Linked DNA regions of Homo sapiens: region 2 is linked to region 1. A link means that fine-mapping ties the variant in region 1 to the expression of a gene that starts in the linked region. Tissue or cell type: tibial nerve. Region 1 holds a variant in brackets; the other region holds the start of a gene. All regions are shown on one strand. Distances are from middle to middle.

The links. PIP is the estimated chance that this variant, and not a neighbour inherited with it, causes the effect.
Region 2: ABLIM1 starts here. The variant in region 1 is fine-mapped to the expression of ABLIM1 in tibial nerve (GTEx, PIP 0.97).

What each region holds. Positions count from the first base shown.
Region 1 is chr10:114,692,989-114,702,683 of GRCh38, reverse strand. It overlaps a transcript of ABLIM1 not described here. Among named protein-coding and RNA genes, the nearest start is that of ABLIM1, 40 kb to the right of the region's middle. The variant A/G (reference allele first, on the strand shown) is at 5,312.
Region 2 is chr10:114,653,401-114,663,095 of GRCh38, reverse strand. It overlaps ABLIM1 (actin binding LIM protein 1), which reads left to right and starts at 4,821. Exons shown (of 23, transcript NM_002313.7): 1 at 4,821-5,139. The coding sequence starts at 4,896. It overlaps LOC124902588 (small nucleolar RNA U13), which reads right to left and starts at 6,601; the gene lies at 6,502-6,601.

The DNA of each region.
Region 1 (9,695 bases):
GTGGTGGCGGGCGCCTGTAGTCCCAGCTACTCGGGAGGCTGAGGCAAGAGAATGGCGTGAACCCGGGAGGCGGAGCTTGCAGTGAGCCGAGATCGCGCCACTGCACTCCAGCCTGGGAGACAGAGCGAGACTCCATCTCAAAAAAAAAAAAAAAAAAAGTGTTCTTACTTATATATTGTTCAGTGTATAATCATGATAGACCAGTGATTAATGACAAGAAACAAAAAAACACTGATGTTAAAATACAAATGAATCACTTTTATCGTTGAAATTATTTTAATTCTGCAAATTCTTATTCTCAAGTTGATCTTCTCCAGATTTGTATGTTTCATTCATCTCATTAAAATTCTGTAACTCATTAGAATATCTGTAGTATTTCAAAAGCCAACATTTTTTAAAGATCATGTATTAATGATTGTCTTTTTCGTTATTAGCAATATAGGCTTTCACTTGCAATGTGGTATTTACAGAGAAAATATTTGCAAATAGACAACTGAAATCTTATGTTTTAGCTTACTATTCATAAAGACTTAAAGTAATGAAAATCAACCAGCTGAATTTTTTAAGCCCAAACTATTAGAATTCTAAACATCTTGTCATGTTGCTGTAATGCATAGTTAAAATTCAGTGTACATTTTTTACTTTGCATATGTTTGAATATTTCTATGATAAACAATAAAAAAATAGTATAATGAACCTCAAGTACCCATCGCCCAGCTTCAACACTCTGCCATTCTTATTTTTTCTAAATTTCTACATCCTCTCTTATTTTTAACAGTTGTTTTTAAGGCATAATTGACATACATTGAAATGTAAGAATCTTGGCTATAGAAGTTTTACAGATAGATACACCTATGTCACCCATAGACCTCTATCACAATATTGAATATTTTCATATCTCCAGAAATTCTCTTGTGTTCTTTGTCAGTGAATCCTCTCACTCCCAGACAATCAAGGTCCTAATTAGATTAGCCTTTTCTAGAACTTCACATAAATTGACTCATATACTACGCACTGTTTTGTGTAAGGCTTTTTCCACTCAGTGTAAGGTCTGTGTGATGCCTCCATTTTGTTGTGTATGGGAGTAGTTCATTCCTTTTTATTGCTGAGTAATATTCCATTATATAGGTATATCACAATTTGATTATCCATTCTATTGATGGACATTCTTGTTGTTTATAGCTATTTACTAATATGAATAAAGCTGCTGTGAACATTCTTGGAAAAGTCTTTTTTGTGGATTTATGTTTTCATTTCTCTTGGTAAAAGATCTAGATGTGGAATTGCTAGGTCGGAGGGTAGGTGTATATTTATAATAAGAAAAATTGTCAAACATTTTTCAAAAACTGTTGTAACCATTTTATATTCTCACTAGAAATGTATTAGAGTTACAATTGTCTCACATCCTCACCAATATTTGGTATTTTAATTTGGCATAGTGGTATCTTGTTGTGATTTTTACTTTGCATTTACCTCATGGCTAATTATTTGAGAACTTTTTAATGTGGATAATGGTCATTTGCATATCTAACCTTGTGAAGTATCTATTCAAGTCTCTCTACCCCTCTGTTTTTAACCTGCATTATTTTTCTTATTGAGTTGTAGGAGTTTTTTTTAAAATGTATTCTAAATACAGGTTATATGTCTGCTTTATGTTTTGCACATACTTTTCTCCCAGCCTGAGGTTTGCCTGTTTATTTTCTTAATAGTGTCTTTTGATGAATGGAGTGTTTAATTTTGGTGAAGTTTAATGTATCAATTTTTATACATTTTTGTGATTTTATTATCCTATCCAAGGAGTTTTTGCCTAATCCCAGGATATCAAAGGTATTCTATATTTTTATGACACTATTAGAGATTTAGATTTTAAGTTTACATCTATGATTCCTCTCAAAATAATTTTTGTATATGGTGTGAGGTAGGGGTTGAGGTTAATTTTTTTTTTTCACAGGGATATATAATTGTTCCAGCCTCATTTGTTGAAAAGATTCCCTTCCTCATTGAATTGCACTGGGGCCTTTGCAAAGAACCAGTCAATCATTTATAAGTGTAGATCTGTTTCTGGAATTCCTATTCTGTTTCAATGATTAATTTGTCTTTCATTATGGCAATACTACATCATCTTAATTATGCCATGTAGAGTAAGTTCTCCATCTTTGAGTGTATGTGTGTGTGTGTGTGTGTGTGTGTGTTTTAATTGTTTTTGGCAATCCTAGGCCCTTTACATTTTCATGTCTATTTTAAAACCAGTTTGTCAACTTTTATCTAAAACACCTGCTGAGAATATTATTAGGGTTACATTGAATTCATGAATTAATTTCAGAGAAATAAGGATCTTATATATTGAACCTTATAATCCATAGACATGATATATATCTTTACTAATTTAGGTTTTCTTTAATTTACCTCAGTGATTATTTGTAGTGTTCTATGTAGATCATTCTCTCTCAGTGAGGTTTTACAAGAGAAGTAATCCATAATGCTCGAATGCATCCTTCATATGTAATGAATTAACTTATTGCTTATGCATCTGGAAATGTATTAGCTTGTTAGACTTCTTTGGTAGAATCAAGAGTAGAGTCACAGGTTGGATGTGGTGACTTGTGCCTATAATCCCAGCAACTTGGGAGGCTGAGGTGGGAGGATTGCTTGAGTCCAGGAGTTCAAAGACCAGCTTGGACAACATAGTGAGACCCCATCTGAAAAAAAACAAAGAATAGAATCATTAAAATAACTTTTTGCTTAATTCTCTCATGGATTGGGGCAACATCTTGCAATACTGTGGTATAATATCACAACCAGTATATTGACACCAATTCAGTCAAGATATACAACAGTTTCATCACCACAAGGATCCTTTGGGCTGCCCTTTTATAGCAGACATAACTGTTTATAAAAGTTTACTTTTTACTTCTGGATGGTAATACTATAATTCTAAATAATATGTTTGGATTTATATTTATTTCAACAATGTCTCTCAATTGGTTTTAATGTTCACTTCCAGAGTTTTATTAGTTTTAAATCTACCATTGATATAGAGCCATTTTATAACTCTAAATAATATACTGCTATTTTTTATCTGACTCTACATAATACCTTCTTACCCCTATTAGGTAGAATGAGGACATTATCACCCTTCCACCTCACTTCTCTTCTCCTACCCACACTTTCTGTCTTCTGACTGCTGTCAGAAGACACCTTACTTTTACATTGTCAAGGTTTATATATTTTAAATCTAACTTTTATGCTTTCTTTTTTATTATAAGTTGATTTTTAGAGCTGAAAACCAATATAAATTATCTGTAACATTAAAATTATGCAAATATTCTTCACTGCAGAAGCAGACACTGTGACTGGACCCTTAGAGAAGGAATTATTCTGAGCATTAAATCTGTCTTGCTCAAAGTACATGTTTAAGCATTATTAAAGCATCATCCAAGGGCCCTTTTCCAACAACCTCCTTTTTTTTTCTCAAAATTTTATGACTCTTTAGTTTGCTTCATATTTAGATTATGGTTTTTTATACAGATTTTTAATTTACATAAAGCTTTTAATTCCAATTCTTTTTTTTTTTTTTTTGCTAAGCAAAATGAATTTATTAATAGCATTACTAAGATCGTCCAGGCTCTGAATCATAACTTGTTGAATGAAATCTACTTTCTTGAAGATGTTTTCTTGGAGACTCTATCTTCTAATTTGGACTCACTGGCTTCTAGATCTGTTATATAGCTGTCACTGTGGGATTCCCCCTAATCCCATTTTATTTCTAAATGAATTCCACATTTTCTTGGAATCTGCAGTTTTCTTTTTGGGAATTAGTTTTTTCTCCTGTGTGAGTCAGTCTTCAAGTAATTTTTTTCAGTAAGGGTGCATAAGAGGTAAGTGGAATCCTTCCCTGTCTGAAAATTTCTTATTTTCTCCACATGCTGAATTGTTTTCTTCTGACTTCACAGTGACTGCCAAGCCTCATGGTAGTCTGAGTCCTTTTCCCTTCTTGGTAACCTGAACTGGTATCTGATAGCTTTTAGGGTGTTCTCTGTATGTTCAGAGTTCTAAAATTACACCAGTGTATGTCTAGCTATTTTGTCATTTTTCTTCATCCTGTCCAGCACTTAGTTTGTTCTTTCATTCTGAAACTTGTGTCTTCCTTCAGGACTGGAGAATTCTGTTTTTTTCAGTTTCTCTCCTTTACTTTCTTTGTCCTCTCTTTTTGGAACTCCTATTCAATAGATATTGGACCTCTTCCATATCTCTTAATTCTTTTTTTTTTTTTTTACATTTTTAATCTCCTTTATTTTGCTCTACTTTATGGGAGGGTTTCTTGACATTTTGTTTTCTAGCCTGTCTGTTGCATTTCTTTTTATTTTCATAATTGTTATTTTTTTATTTCTGTAAACTCTCTTTTTCTGTGATTGCTCTTTTAATTTTTTCCCAGATTAGCTTCATGGATACAGTTTGTTCTCAAATGCCTTAGAGGATATCAATTTGAATTTTTATTTAGTTCTTTTCTTCTGTTGCTTAAATTATCTATTTTCTCTAGAATCATGTGTTTGTGTATTCATCTTGGTCCAATTTTGTGCTTTTGTTTTCCTTAAATGTCTTAGTGATTCTTTTTTTTGGTATATGTTAATTAACTAATAGGGGGATTAATACAGAGATTTCTATGTGGGGGATTAATGTTTCCTCCTGTCTTTTTGCTGGTGTAATTTTCCTCTATAGTTGTATTAGTTTGCAACCACAAGAGATCTCTAAAATGTAATCTTCAGTATATTCAATAATATATTGATTTAAAATCATTACTTTAAAGCACTTATTTATCACATACCAAATGAAATGGCAAAATGATCTTTTAAAACCCTAAGGAAGATGATATAATTTTATATTAATATGAGAAGGTTTTGAGAACCAAGCTTAAAACTTGATGATATGAGGAATAGCTGGATTACTAAAATTGAAAATTAGGGCTATCTAAGTTAATGGATTTATTGATGGGCATAGGTTTTCTTTTTAACAGCAAATATCACTCTTGTTCTGTTTCTATTGTGTCATGATTTGGATACCTATAAACCCCAAATACCTAATTTGTTTTTAGAAGCCATTGGCACACACCCTGTGTGAAGTGAGCACCTCCTGACAGGTTCACGCTGTGCAGGTTTTCCTCCCTCCTACTCGCTGGCATTTACGGTGCCACTGCCCCGGGCTGAGTGGGCTGGCCCGGAGGCTGGCTCTGGTCCCCAGCCCCTACTGCTGGGCAGATCAGCTGCTTCGAAAACCGCGTGCCAGCTCCTGAGGGCTGATCACCACTTGCCCC[A/G]GGGCAGGAGAAGCCTTGCAGGCTGCCAGATCTGAGTTCTTTAGTTTGTACTTTTGAGTAACTGGTTGTGTCTCTGACTCAGACTGTTTTATGAGTGCCACTTAAATTCTCAAAAAACCAGAGTGGCCTTACTTAAGCTGTGATGAGCGGAGTGTGGGAAGGAAGGTGGGTTGGGTTGGTGGACAGTGAGGCTGAGAATTGTTTTTCTCTGATCCCATGGAGCAGAAATGAGAAGGGAAGGGGCGTGTTTTGTGTCTGACCTGGAATTTTGTTCTCTTCCTTCCTCCCCCAGAGTGCCCTGAGTCATGAGGCCGAGAGATTCAGATTACTGTGAATTCTAGTTCTTATTGAACCCAGAATGGACCAGAAGGCCTCAGCATAGCCCTAGGACTTAGTGATCCATTCAGCATCTGTTATGAGTTGAATTATGTCTCCTCCAAATTTCTATGTTGCAGCCCTAACTCCCAGTATCTCAGGATGTGCCTATATTTGGAGACAGGCTCTATAAAGAGGTAATGTAGTTAAAATAGCCTAATCCAGTATGAATGGTATATTAGTTCATTTTCACACTGCTGATAAAGACATACCCGAGACTGGGTAATTTATAAAGGAAAAGAGGTTTAATGGACTCACAGTTCCATGTGACTGGGGAGGCCTCACAATCATGGCAGAAGGTGAAAGGCATGTCTTACATGGTGGCAGGCAAGAGAGAATGAGAGCCAAGCAAAAGGAGAAACCCCTTATAAAACCATCAGATCCCATGAGACTTATTCACTACCATGAGAACAGTATGGGGGAAACTGCCCCATGATTCAATTATTTCCCACTGTGTCCCTCCCACAACACATGAGAATTATGGGAGCTACAATTCAAGATGAGATTTGGGTGGGAACACAGCCAAACCATATCAAATGGTGTCCTTATAAGAAGAGGAAATCTGGGCACAGAGACAGAGAGACCAGACACATCTGTGCAATGAAGCTCATCCATGTGAGGTCACAGCAAGAGGGCTGTCATCTGCAAGCAAGAAGAGAGGGCTTAGAAGAAACAAAACCTGCCATCATTTTGGTCTTGGACTTCTATAGCCTGTGGTATTTTGTTGTTGTCATCTTAGCAACTAATATAGCATTTTTAGCCAAGAAATCCTGCTTTGTTCCCTGCTGCCCTCTCCAGGGATGGAGGAGGGAGGCATTCCCTGGGTGGAGCCTGGGCAAGGAGCCCTCATCACTGGATCCTAAAACCTGTGTCTCTGATTTTCCATAGACACTGGGGCTATCAAGGAAAGATTTTTGACTCATCTTGCCAAGTTCTAAACTATTTGGATATCAAACTTGGGTAAAGACCTAGTGAGGAAATCAGGGAGGCTGTAGTTAGGAGAATTTCACAGGCATGCAGAAGTAATGTCATGTAGGATGCTAGCTGAGATGTGTGGATAAGCATCAGTTGCCACATTGATGGGGCGATGGCAATAAGAGTCTGGAAACTCTGTTTTCCCAAAGAAACTGACATCCTCATAATCTCTTACGATCAGAGATCAAAATTTGAGGTGCCTTGGTTTGGTTGTACAAAGCTTCATACATGGAAATCCTTCTTTCTGTTGGATGTGTTTTATTTCCAACAGAAATAAAATGCCATGGCATTGTCTCCAATGCCATTGCATTATCATTGCCATTTCTAGCAGCAGAATTCTTTAATTTGAAAAAGTTGTTGAATTGTAATGGACCCAGTTCTAACCTAAGTTTCAGGTCAGTGACTTTGTATAATTCATTGGCTCTCTGTGTCTCAGTTTTCCTTATCTGAAAAGGGGGATAATTATTGCTGCTCCCCAGTGCACAGATACATTATTTTGATGTTGTGGGAGTGGGGTTTGAATTTGTAGAAAGAGAATGGATTTCAAAAAGGCCTTCTTTCCCCCATTTAATTTGGTCTTGAGAAAATGATGTAGCCTCTCTGAGCCTCAGTTCTCTCCTCTATAAAATGGGGATAGTAATGGTTACTCCAGTGGGGGGTGTGAGTATTAAATGAGAACATATGGAGAGCACCTTATGTTGATTCCTGCATGTTTTAAGGGCTCTATAAATGTTAGCACTTGATGATGATATTTTAAAATTATTGAAATTACTAACAAAAGGTGAGTTAGTTGCTTTAGATACTTAAGTATTATGCTGTCCCTTAAAGGGGCATCTGCTTAACAGATGGTTAGTTGACCATTTAGCTAATGGAAAGCAGTGTAAGATTTAGGATAATGTATGGAGATGTAACTAGAGAATGAGGTCTTGTTCCTTTGACCTACATGCTAAACTCTCAGTACATACCATCAAGCAGGCTTCCTCTAACTGTAACATGCACATAAATTCCCCGGAAATCTTGTTGAAATGCGAATTCTGATTCAGTACCTGGAGAGTCCGGGTTGGGTGCTGACATTCTGCATTTCTAAGAAGTTCCCAGGTGAGGGCGCTGCTGCGGCTCAATGTCCGGGTTTTGAGCGGCGAGGTCCCAGAGAAGATGGTAGAGCTAGCTATGATCCCAATCTGTAAGTTCCACTTTTTATCAACCAATTATTATTGTCTATCAACTTACATTAAGCTTCAGAAACATTTCATTTTGACTTTTCATGTCAAATTCCCCAGCTCTTGCTACTTTCCTGCCCCTGGCCTCTCTATTTAGTACTTAATGTCTTTTTTTTTCTTGTTTAAAGAATAATAACAATAATGACTAATATTTGTCAGGAATCAGGAACTGTTTCCTTAAATTTTCACAACATCCCATGAGGTAGGTATCATAATTATCCCCATCTTACAGGTGAGAATATGGAGATACGTATAGATAAAATAACTTGCTAAATCACCCAACTAGTGAGTGGTAAACCAGGACTATTTTAAGAGTTTATTTAAAGGAGCCCTTTTGTAAATGAGAATCCCCAGGGATAGCTGGCATAGTGCACCCCCCTTACCAGTTTTTGTTATGCCCCTTTAGGTTTTTGTCACATTTTAGAAAATGTAGAGCCTCCCTTCCAGGAGCCAGCAACTGTGGCATTCATCCAGAATGCAACCCCAAGTGACTGCAGAGTCTAGGAAGTCCGTGATGTTTTCTCAGAGTGGCACCCGGGCCAGAACCCACACAGCTCAGCTGTGGTTTGCTACCTTATGAGTGAAGGCTGTAAGAATGAAGGTCACAGCCAGCAGACAGATCCTGTAGGGTGTGTTCACATCCTTTCCACCTGCTTCTTTCACAATTTGAGTATAAATTCAATTTTTATCAACCGAATATTATTTTCTATTGATTTACTTCTGGAGTACTGACTTCTGAAAACTTCAGAATATTTTTATTTTTCATCTTACATAGGCAGGGCTTTTGCTACTATTCTGCCTGTGGCCTCTGTGTCTAGTACTTTAAAAATGATTAAAATAGACTGGGCATGGTGGCTGATGCCTGTAATCCCAGCACTTTGGGAGGGCAAGGCGGGAGGATGGCTTGAGGCCAGGAGCTCGAGACCAGCCTGAGCAACACAGCAATAACCCAATCTCTACAAAAAAAAAAAAAAAAGTTTTTTTAAAATCAGCCAGGCATGGTAGCATGTGCCTGTGTCCTAGCTGTTTGGGAGGCTGAGGTGGGAGGATCACTTGAGCCTGGGAGTTCAAGGTTACAGTGAGCTATGATCATGCAACTGCACTCCAGCCTGAGTGACAGAGCAAGACCCTGTTTCTGAAAGAAAAAAAAAAAGAAATAAAAAGAAAGAAAGAAAAAACGCTTAAAATTATATCAGCAACAACACCCTACCTGCAAGCCTGCGCTTATATGGCTGTGCGCTGTGCGAGGAAGAGCTGCAGGGGATAGACCTGAACCCTATGATGGATGACAGGGACACGTCCTGTAGGGGCAATGTACTTGGCGATCTGGAGAGAGTGCACGCATGAGAGCATGTTGCTCAGAGCCTGTGGCTGGTCCACTCCTGCCTTGGCTACTCATTCTCTCACTTGCTGTAGTCACTTACACTCACAGGCCTTCATTTTCCTCCTTTTTAAAATGAAAGGATTGGGTAGGTTGGGGATTTTTCAACATGTGTGTTTATTTTTAGCTATGGAACCCTTTCTTCAGATGAAGGCTCACCTGGAAGCCCAGAAAATAAAGCATAAGAGCTGAATTTTCTTTGGTGGAAGTCGGACCCAGAACCAACTCTCTGCCTTCCCCGCGCTGCATCCCTCACCGATCCCAACACAGCCTCCTTCTTCTGTTAGCTAGAAAACAGCTGGCCTAGATAATAGGAAGCCTCCCTTTAGCCTCCACACTGTGCCTGTGCACTCAAAGGAATAAAACATGGGGTTTCAGAAAGCCAGTGTTAGGGAGGAGTATTTGCTAAAGGCAGTTTTGTTTCTAACTCCAG
Region 2 (9,695 bases), 40 kb after region 1:
GGCATAGAGAAGGTTTGGCCGCTGACAAAGACTGCAGCCTGGTGGATTGTGATGTGTGGGCAGCAACTTAGTGCTCTGATTCTACGGAGGAGATTCATGGGAGAGTCTTGTCTAACATATGGAGTTTGAGCTCAGGGGGTGCCTGTGACCCCACTCTGAGCTGATCTTCATCTGTGGCTGCTTCCTTGAAGTCATTCCAAGCCTGCCTCTCATTCCTCTTTGGGAACGTTGCCTATGCAGTGTATTGTCAGAGAGTAATTTGAGACACTTGGTGCCTGTTAAACTAATTACGCTTCAGTCCTCAGAGTGCCATGGTGCTCTCAATCCTGAATGCTCAGCAGATTTTATGTAGTATCTGAATTATTAATGGAGAAGATATGGAAGAGGGTGTTTGGCTGCTTGTTCCATTTTGAGCAGGTCTTGGGCAAGTGGCATTACGGGAAGAGAAGCAGCTGCATGCAGAGGGATGGAGGAAGCAGGCCTTTCAGAGGAGACCTGCCCAGACCGGAGCATATGCCAGTATGCTCAGAAAATCACAGCCTGCTTTGGAGGGATGGGTAAGACCCTTTAAACATTGGGCTTTGCAGAGAAGATGCCCAGGGCTGACCATGCAGAAGGACTGAACTTTAGGACTTACGGGGAGCAGGGAGCAGGGATAGCCGCTGCTGAGCAGGAGAACCTCAAATGGGCCGAGTCGTCACTGTCTGGAAGTCCAATTGCACCCCTTTTTCACAGCCTTCCCACTGAATCTGTTCTGTTTAGCAGCAAAGATCATCCTGACTTGTGAGCAACTGCAGGTGTTTTTGGAAGGCATGCTGAGCTCTTTTTGTTCTTTCATTTTGATTAAAAAACAACAACAAAAATGAAAAGTAACCCCATTATCACTGATGAGGCCACAGGCTAACTGCAGAACATTTCCTTAGCAAACTAAATTCCAGAAATATTGGCATCGTAAGGTGGCAATTTGCTCTCTGAGAAAATTTTATTCTTTAGTGAGAAGCAAGTAGATCCTAGCAGATGATTTAAGCAGGGAGGGGATACTTGTCTGAGAAAAAAGACTTAAATCACTATATAGAATAAAGTCCATGTTCATTTGTGGAGAATCACTGTGACTGATGAAGAAAGAGCAGTAATTGAGGCATCTGTTCGCCGAGCACTGTGTAGCCCCAAAACACCTGGCTTTGGGCTGGGGCTCATCACATCAGGTGTTTATTGAGCTCCTACAGCATGCAAAGGCTGGGTGTCCTCAGTGCCCCTTGGTGAATTTTCCCACTGATGGTTCATTTTCATAGTCTATCATAGAAGAGCTTGAGTAGGTACAGTGGAACTGCTTCTAGAAAGATTAGGAATTTCCTATCTGATAAGATACACAGGCCAGCAAAATCTTGGGCAGAAGTTCAACATTTGTAATTATCATTAGCTTTGTAATGTGGTGCATTGTGATATCATATCATAGAACCATAGAAACGGTCACAAAACCCACTGCACTCCTTTGTGATTGCTGTGACTGTAGTTTTATGTGGGCTGTGGCAGAAGGCAGCAGTGAAAGACCTGAATCCACTGGTGCTTCTTTAGGGTCTTCCCCAACTGTGCTTTCCTGGGTGAAGAGGTTGCTGTCAGGCAGATACCACTGCAAGTCTATTTTTAAGACTGGAGGCTTGGCCTCTGCTAGGTATTTAACTGGAGCCATGTGGAGGAGGGTAAGTGAAAAGCTCTGAGCACTTGGGGAGTGGAACTTAGTTCACAGGTGTCTGCAGTCACTGCTGCCAGCATCTGAACTCTCATCCCTCTCCACTGCCTGAGAATGGAGTCAGCCCCCTCACATTTATATGTAGTTCGGTTGTCTTTAAAAGCAAGCAACCATTTGTTTTTCTCATTAGCCGTCTTCATGATCCATATGTAGTTTGCTTTGCATCTTGACCTAAAAAAGTATCAAAATTCTTACGTATAATTCCGTTATTGAATAAGAATTTATTTTCTTTTCCTTTTCGCAGTCTCTTAGAAGACAGTTGCATCTTGAACTAAATATATGGATCTGTAAACTTGTAAAAAAAAAAATTTAGGAGTGTTCTGTGCATGCTCTGCAGCTACAATGGCTAAGCACTGAGGTAGAGTTAATGCAGTGGAAATAGTTTTTGTGGGCAATGCTTGATGAGTTTAGGGACCAAGAAAGCCGAACAGCTTTGTTATGGAAGAGTTACCTTTTTTCCAGGTCAGGAAGATGCTGGGTTTGAAGGAAATAGTCTCTTTTCTGTCCAAAGTCTGTGTTTGTGCATTGTTACTGTGTTCCAGAGCCTGCCTTCAAAGTGGCTGTATCATGTTCCTCTATATAAACACATCTATATTTCACAAAAAGACCATGTAAGCACATATAAGCAAGTAGCTGCTCAGGTTCTCAGTTTGCAAAGAGCAGAGCTCCAGGAAACCCAGCAAGAAAGAATTAACAATGAAAGGCAGGGGTTCCCACACTACGATGTTTATTACAAAACACTCTAGAAGAACCTGGTAGGGCTGAGGTGGCCCTCGGGGATCTCCATCTTAAACAAATTGGCCCAGAAATCACATTTTGGGAAATACGGTTTTTTTTTTGATGGATGAATGCCACTTTTTTTTTTTCCAGTTGTATTTCTTTTCTTTTCTTTTTTTAAATTTCAATAGTTTTGGAGGGATCAGGTGATGTTTGATGACATGGGTAAGTTCTGTAGTGGTGCTTTCTGAGATTTTGGTGCACCCATCACCCTAGCAGTGTACACTGCACCTAATGTTTAGTCTTTTATCCCTTACCCTCATTTTGAGAAACATTGATAGAACATCTTACATTGTATATCTGAAGGTTCCTCAAAATAGGCAAACAGGGAAAAGAACACATACAGATTGTTTGACCTGCTTTGTAAACTGTTTTTAGAGGAAGACTTTGGAGGTTGGTGTTGGGCTTAATTCCCAGAATTTTGGAGCAGAAATTTTGAGGTGTGACTTCAGTAGTGGTAGAAGTCCCATGTTCCCACTTTCCCCAAGTCCACCTCAGTCTGAGTGCCTCTAGACAGCGTCTGTTTCTTCCATTCCCACCGTGCTTCACATTGGCATAGAATAATTCTAGCAAATTGGAATTCTCAGGTTCTTGAATTGTGTTGCCAATAGATTAGGAACTTGTAACAAAAGAAGCAAGAATTTCCTTTCTCTGCTTCATCTGCCTGGGGCCTTTGTGGAAGGACCCGACTATTGGATAGGAAGAGTCAGCATGGGAGGCAGAAGACCCGGCTCCACCCTAGGCTCTCTGCATTGTCCTGAGAAAGTCACATCTTCTCTGAGACTCACCTTCCTCATCTTAAAGGCTGGCGTAGATCAGTGCTTCCTGAGTGCTGGCACTAGTCTGGGAGAATGTTTAGAAATGTAAATGATGAGTTAATGGGTGCAGCACACCAACATGGCACATGTATGCATATGTACCTGCACATTGTGCACATGTATCCTAGAACTTAAAGTATAAAAAAAGAAAAGAAATGTAAGTTCCTGACCTTTACGTGCAAGAATCCCGTATATATATATTTTGTATTTTTCAAAAGTTCTACAGATTTTTTGTTTTGAGACAGAGTCTTGCCCGGTCACCTAGGAGTACAGTGGCACAATCATAGCTCACTGTAACCTCAAACTCCTGGACTCAACCAATCCTCCTGCCTCAGCCTCCCGAGTAGCTGGGACTACAGATGCATGACACCACACTTGGCCAATGTTTTAATTTTTTTTTTTTTTTCTGTAGAGACAGAGTCTTGCTATGTTGCCAGGGCTGGTCTCGAAGTGGCCTCAAGCAATCCTCCCACCTCAGCCTCCCAAAGTGCTAGGATTACAGACGTGAGCAACCGCACCTGCAGATGGTTCTTATGCACAGCAATATTTGGGAACTACTGGACTAGATTACCTTTGATGGCCTTGTCAGCTCTATAATTCTATTCTAGGGTTTTAATGAAAAGGAATTTATATTAGAACATAATAGCCCAATGACAGGAGAAGGAGTGTGAGTTTATTCATTTTGACTTGGGACTTTTGTATGGTTGTAGACGGTCACATTTTGTACTGCATCTTACTGTGTGGATGTTAAAGAGTAAATGATAATTACTGGGGTTGTCCTTTTTATATCAATACACTAATTCCATGAAGGTCCTTCTAGCTTGTAACTTTGTGTAAAGCTGAAGCTACCTACATGTTAATTCTGTCTCCATCATATGATTCTGCCATCACAGAAAACCCATGAAACATTACGACAGTAAACATTGGCTTAATGGAATGAGGCAGAAGGATTTTCCTGGTACTGAGGGGAGGGGTCCCCTTCTAGAAAATGGAAAGGAAATGATCGTTTACTATGGCTGAGAGCTGGATTTGTCACGAATTGAAGCTGAGGATCTTTATCGAGCCTTCCCCACCTCCACCTGTGAGATCTGAAATACTGGAAAACTTGGAATTATTACCCTGGGATTTTTCTGATAGACATTTTTAGATTATATAAAATATGTGTATATATCCCTAGCCCTATTCTCAGTACTCTTACCAGATGATACTGAATATTCTAGGAGTATTTGCAGGAGAATTCTTTTAGATATTGCAGTTATATTCTTTCTCTTATTCTGGATATTAATCTGATTTTCAAATATGCATTCATGTCTGAGACTGAAAGTCTCGAGTTCCTGGTAGTGGCTGTTTTTATACCTAGTCATCTGACTGAGAATATGGTGCCCTAAGCTCTTGAGGGTAATCACTTAAATACATCTCCCTTAATCTTCTTTGCTGGGCAGTGAGAAAAGGAGACAGTAAGGAGCCAGGGGAACAGAGAGAATTGTGGGGCAGCACCGCTCCTTGGGTCCCCACTCCCCATTTCTCATTGCTTGGAAATCCATGCCAAGATGCCTGCCTTCCTTGGTCTAAAGTGTCTGGGGAAATTGTGCAGCTCTGAGAAAAGCAAAGTCACCTCATCTGAGAGAACCAGTGCCAGGGGCTCGAACAGAAAGAGACTGATTGTTGAGGACCGGAGGGTCTCTGGGACCTCCTTCACCGCTCATAGGCGTGCCACTATCACTCATTTGCTGTATCTCTGTCCCAAGGACTACTGCCCACGTGGGCGTGTATGTAACAGCGTTGATCCTTTTGGTAAGTAAAATAACCCTCTCTGGACATGGTTTTGTGTTTTGTGATTGGCGTAATTAAGAGAGTACTATCCAGATCATTCTTCTGTAATGTGTTCTTCAAAGGAAACACTATCCTTAATATATAATTAATGGGGGTGAGGGTGGGAGAGATGGAGAATGTAACATAAGTGTAGCTACGGAGCTAAATCCCAAGGATATTTTTGTCCAGGATTTTATGATCTTCAGTAACAAATGTATCTCTTTCCAAACTTGGTATGAATAATTGTCAGTAATAGGAAGTATGATGGAAAAGAAAGATCTCTATCTGTAGATGTTATTATTTCATATGACAAAGGATGAATGGAAAGGAAATATTCAAGGGGGGAGATGGAGGCTAGCAAAAGATAAGTAAAGTTGAGGTCCAAATTGTGTCACTGTGTAGGGAGGGCTCGTCTTGTGAAATGTTCTAAAAAAGAAATAAAATAAAAAGAAAGTGTTTTAATATTGAGAGAACTTGTTGAGGCTTCTTTTCAGTGAAGCTCATTAAAACGTGTCACTCATCCCTCTGCCTGGGAAAGAGGTGGAGAAGGCCCACTCTGAGGATAGAGTTATTGCACTTGGGAGTTTTCAGACTTTGAAGTTATCATGGTGCCTTTGTTAATGAAGATGATACCTACCCAACTGCTCACACCTTGTCAAAGTCAGACCTAGAATTGGTACAGGAAGCAGAAGGCAATTAACCATGGTCCCTACGAATGTATGAAGTTAAGTCAAATAAGCCAGGAAGCATAACGCATTCCTCGTCATTCTTGGACAGCCAGAGTTGAATTGGATTCAGTTTAGCTGAAGTACTGGAGTTAAGATGTTCTGTTTTGTTGCAATCAGCTTTCAACAGCTTTATTGAGTTATAATTCATATGCTGTAAAATTCATCCATTTAAAGTCTATAGTTCAGCGAGTTTTAGTATGCAACTGATATGTTACATATATATTTTCATTGCCTCAAAAAGAAACCCTGTACCCTTTAGCTATCGCCTCCCCACCCCAACCTCTTCATCCCCATCTCTCAGCCTTAAGAAATCAAAATCTACTTTCTGCCTCTTAGATTTCCCTATTCTGGATATTTCATGTGAATGGAATTTATAATCTGTGGTCTTTCGTTTATGGCTTCTTTCACTTAGCATGTTTTCAGGGTTTACCCATGTTGTAGCACGTGTCAGTACTTTATTCCTTGTTATGGCCAAATACTATTTCACCGTATAGATATTCCACAATTTGTTTCTGCTTACACCAGCTGATGGACATTTGGGATGTTTCCAACTTTTGGATTTTATGAATAATGCCTCTATGCATATCCATATACAAGGTTTTTTTTTCTTTTTTCGTGTCAGATGGGTAATGTGCCAATGTCATAACAAGGTTCGAGGGTGGCTCACCTCACACACGCGTGTGTGAACACATCAAAAGGATCATCATATACAGGTTTTTATGTGGACATATGATATGTTCAGGGCTCTTGGGTGTATACCTAGGTGTGGAATTTCTGGGTCATATAATAACTATGTCTAACCTTCTGAAGGACTTCTAGATTATTTCACAAAGCAGTTACTCCATTTTACATTCCCACCAGCAGCATATTAAGGTCCCAGTTTCTCCACATCCTTGCTAACACTTGCTATTATCTGCCTTTTTTTTTTTTTTTTTTTTTTTGAGACGGAGTTTTGCTTTGTTGCCCAGGCTAGAGTGTAATGGCGTGATCTCGGCTCACTGCAACCTCTGCCTCCTGAGTTCAAATGATTCTCCTGCCTCAGCCTCCCAAGTAGTTTGGATTACCGGCATGTGCCACCACACCTGGCTAATTTTGTATTTTTAGTAGAGATGGGGTTTCACCATGTTGGCCAGGCTGGTCTGGAACTCCTGACCTCAGGTGACCTGCCTGCCTCCACCTCCCAAAGTGGTGGGATTATAGGCATGAGCCACCGCGCCCGGCCTTATCTGACTTTTTTATTCTAGCCATCCTAGTGGGTGTGAAGCGGTATCTCACTGTGCCTATACAGAGCTTTGGCTGGGACAGAGAGGGCTGACAAGCAGATCAGTGCTCAGGCAAGACAGGATACCGACTTCGACAGCTGCTGATGGTAACAGCTCCTTGTCTCTTACTCTTAACAGTCTTCTCTTCATGATTCCAGGCACATTCCTTTTTAGGGGAGCAGGGAGCGGGGATGAAGAAGCCATGCCTTCTGCCCAGTCCCCTTACAAGCTCTGCTAAGAAGACTTTGTTCAGAACCAGCTGAGTATGCCTATTGTAGCAAATGACACCTCCCTCAAAAATCAGATCCACATACTAGGGGATACCTAGAATCCCTTTATTGAGGAAAAAATGTTTTATTCCACAAATAGGAATAAAAATGAAACATGTAGATTTCTGCTGGAGCTAACACTTTATTCTGAATGACTTCGATGCTTCTATGGAATGTTTCTACTCAAACAGACTCAAATCAGATATTTTTGGAATGAGCCACTGTTGCTCTTGAAAGAGATAAGATCTGTTGGGAGGAGAAGGCAGGAAGGCAAGGGGAAGCCAGGTAAGCTGTAGTTTAATGAAAGCATGCTGGATAATGACTTATCAGCAGATTCCCTCACTTGGGAACAAGAGAATTAACAGTATCCGAGAGAGTTCTGGATACAGGAAAGGTAATCATCATTGGGATATCCATATCTTAGTGGAGGCAGATAAGGAAATCTGGGAGATTAGTTAAGTGTGGCTTTGAGGTTGGACATTCCAGAATTTGACTCCCAGCTCTTCTACTCACTAAATGTGTTACTTTGGGAAGTTAGTGATTCCAAGTGCGTTTCTCTGTCCCTAAGGTAGGCAGGGAATGCATACCTTATAGGATTGCTTTGAGCAGGCCTATCCCTAGAGTAGATGGGGCCCTGGGCAGATTTTTTTTGTAGGGCTCCTGTCTATATAAACAATTTGAGTCACCCAAAGCAGTGTGTCAACAGCTCAATCTGTTTCAGTCTTGGGAAAGAAATGCCACACCAGCCTGAGGAAGTGATTGCTTGCTAGGCTTGTCCCCTAGAATGGAGCCAGCTCCAGGGCCCCAAGAAACCCATTGGCATGACTCCTGGGGCTCCTTGGGGCATCTGGCCAACCCCTTGCACAGTATGGGAGAGATGCAGAGGATCACTAGAGAGATCTGTGAAGAGGAGGCTCAGATTCCCCATCCAGACAGCACTGCTGGCCCCAGCGATCCCAGGTACCAGAGCGCACTTAGACATTTTTGAGGAAGGAATGGGGTTAGGGCAGGGGCCCTGCTTGCGTGTGTCTAAGGGCAGTATTGATTATGAGAACTAAATGAGAACCTGGCTGGGCATGGTGGTGTGGGCCTATAGTACCAGCTACTTGAGAGGCTGAGGCAGGAGGATCACTTGGGCCTAGGAGTTCAAGACCAGCCTGGGCAAACTTGCAAGACCCTATCTCAATTTTAAAAATTGTAAAAAAAGATAAAAATAAATTTAAAGAATGAGAACGTGCATATCAAAGTGTTTGGTATAGTGGCACACAAAAGCATCCACTAAATGTTAATTTCAGTAATAATAATAGAATTGCAATATAGTCAGCATTAGTCATTTTTGACAGTCTCTATGGAGGCTGAATTAAAATAATAAAATAAGAAAAAATTGTTTATTATTGTTAAAAATAATTTCTATTGTTTGCCTTCCATGCTGTGAAACAATAGAGGCCCAGAACTATAGATGCTGCACAGGACGTGGGATTCCCAGAAAGCCACTGTGTGTTCAGAGCATCCTGTTTAGGACAGGTGCTTGGAGGAAGTGCGCCCTCCTGCAGCCATGCATGTTCCTGTGCTACGAAGCCCCAGAGTGTTCAGGAGCAGCTCCTGGCAGGGTGCTTGGGAATATTTGGCAAAGGCCTCCTCCAGCTGCCAGAAAGATCTCACGATGCTGCAGCTTCCTGTTATTGTCTGGTGCTCAATCCCTGCTTTGAGTTGTGCTGGACTCCATGATTTTCCAAGTGTCCCCATGCATATGTGTCCTTTGTAAAGCTCAAAACAACCCTTGGATGTTGCAAGGGAAGAAATTGTTTTCCCCCACTTAACAACAGCAATGAGTTAGCAAGAAGATGGGAAAAGTGGGCAAAACAAATATATCAGTGAACATACAAAATAGCTTCCGCAAAAATATATCAGTGGGCATATATCAGTGAAATAGATCTGTGAATATACAAAATAGCTTCTGCAAAAATATATCAGTGAGCATATATCAATGAAATAGATCAGTAAACGTACGAAACAGCCTCTGCAGCTTCTGACTGTAGATGTAGTACTGTTCTTGAAGAACGGCTGTCATTCATTGAGGGCCTACTATATCTCAAACATTGTGATAAGTGTCTTTTTTTGTTTGGTTTTGTTTCTGAGACAGGGCCTCCCTCTGTCTCTGAGGCTGGAGTGCAGTGGTGAGAACAGGGCTCACTTCAGCCTTCACCTCTTGAGCTCAAGTGATCTTCTTGCCTCAGCCTCCCATGTAGCTGGAACCACAGGCGCATGCTACCAGGCCT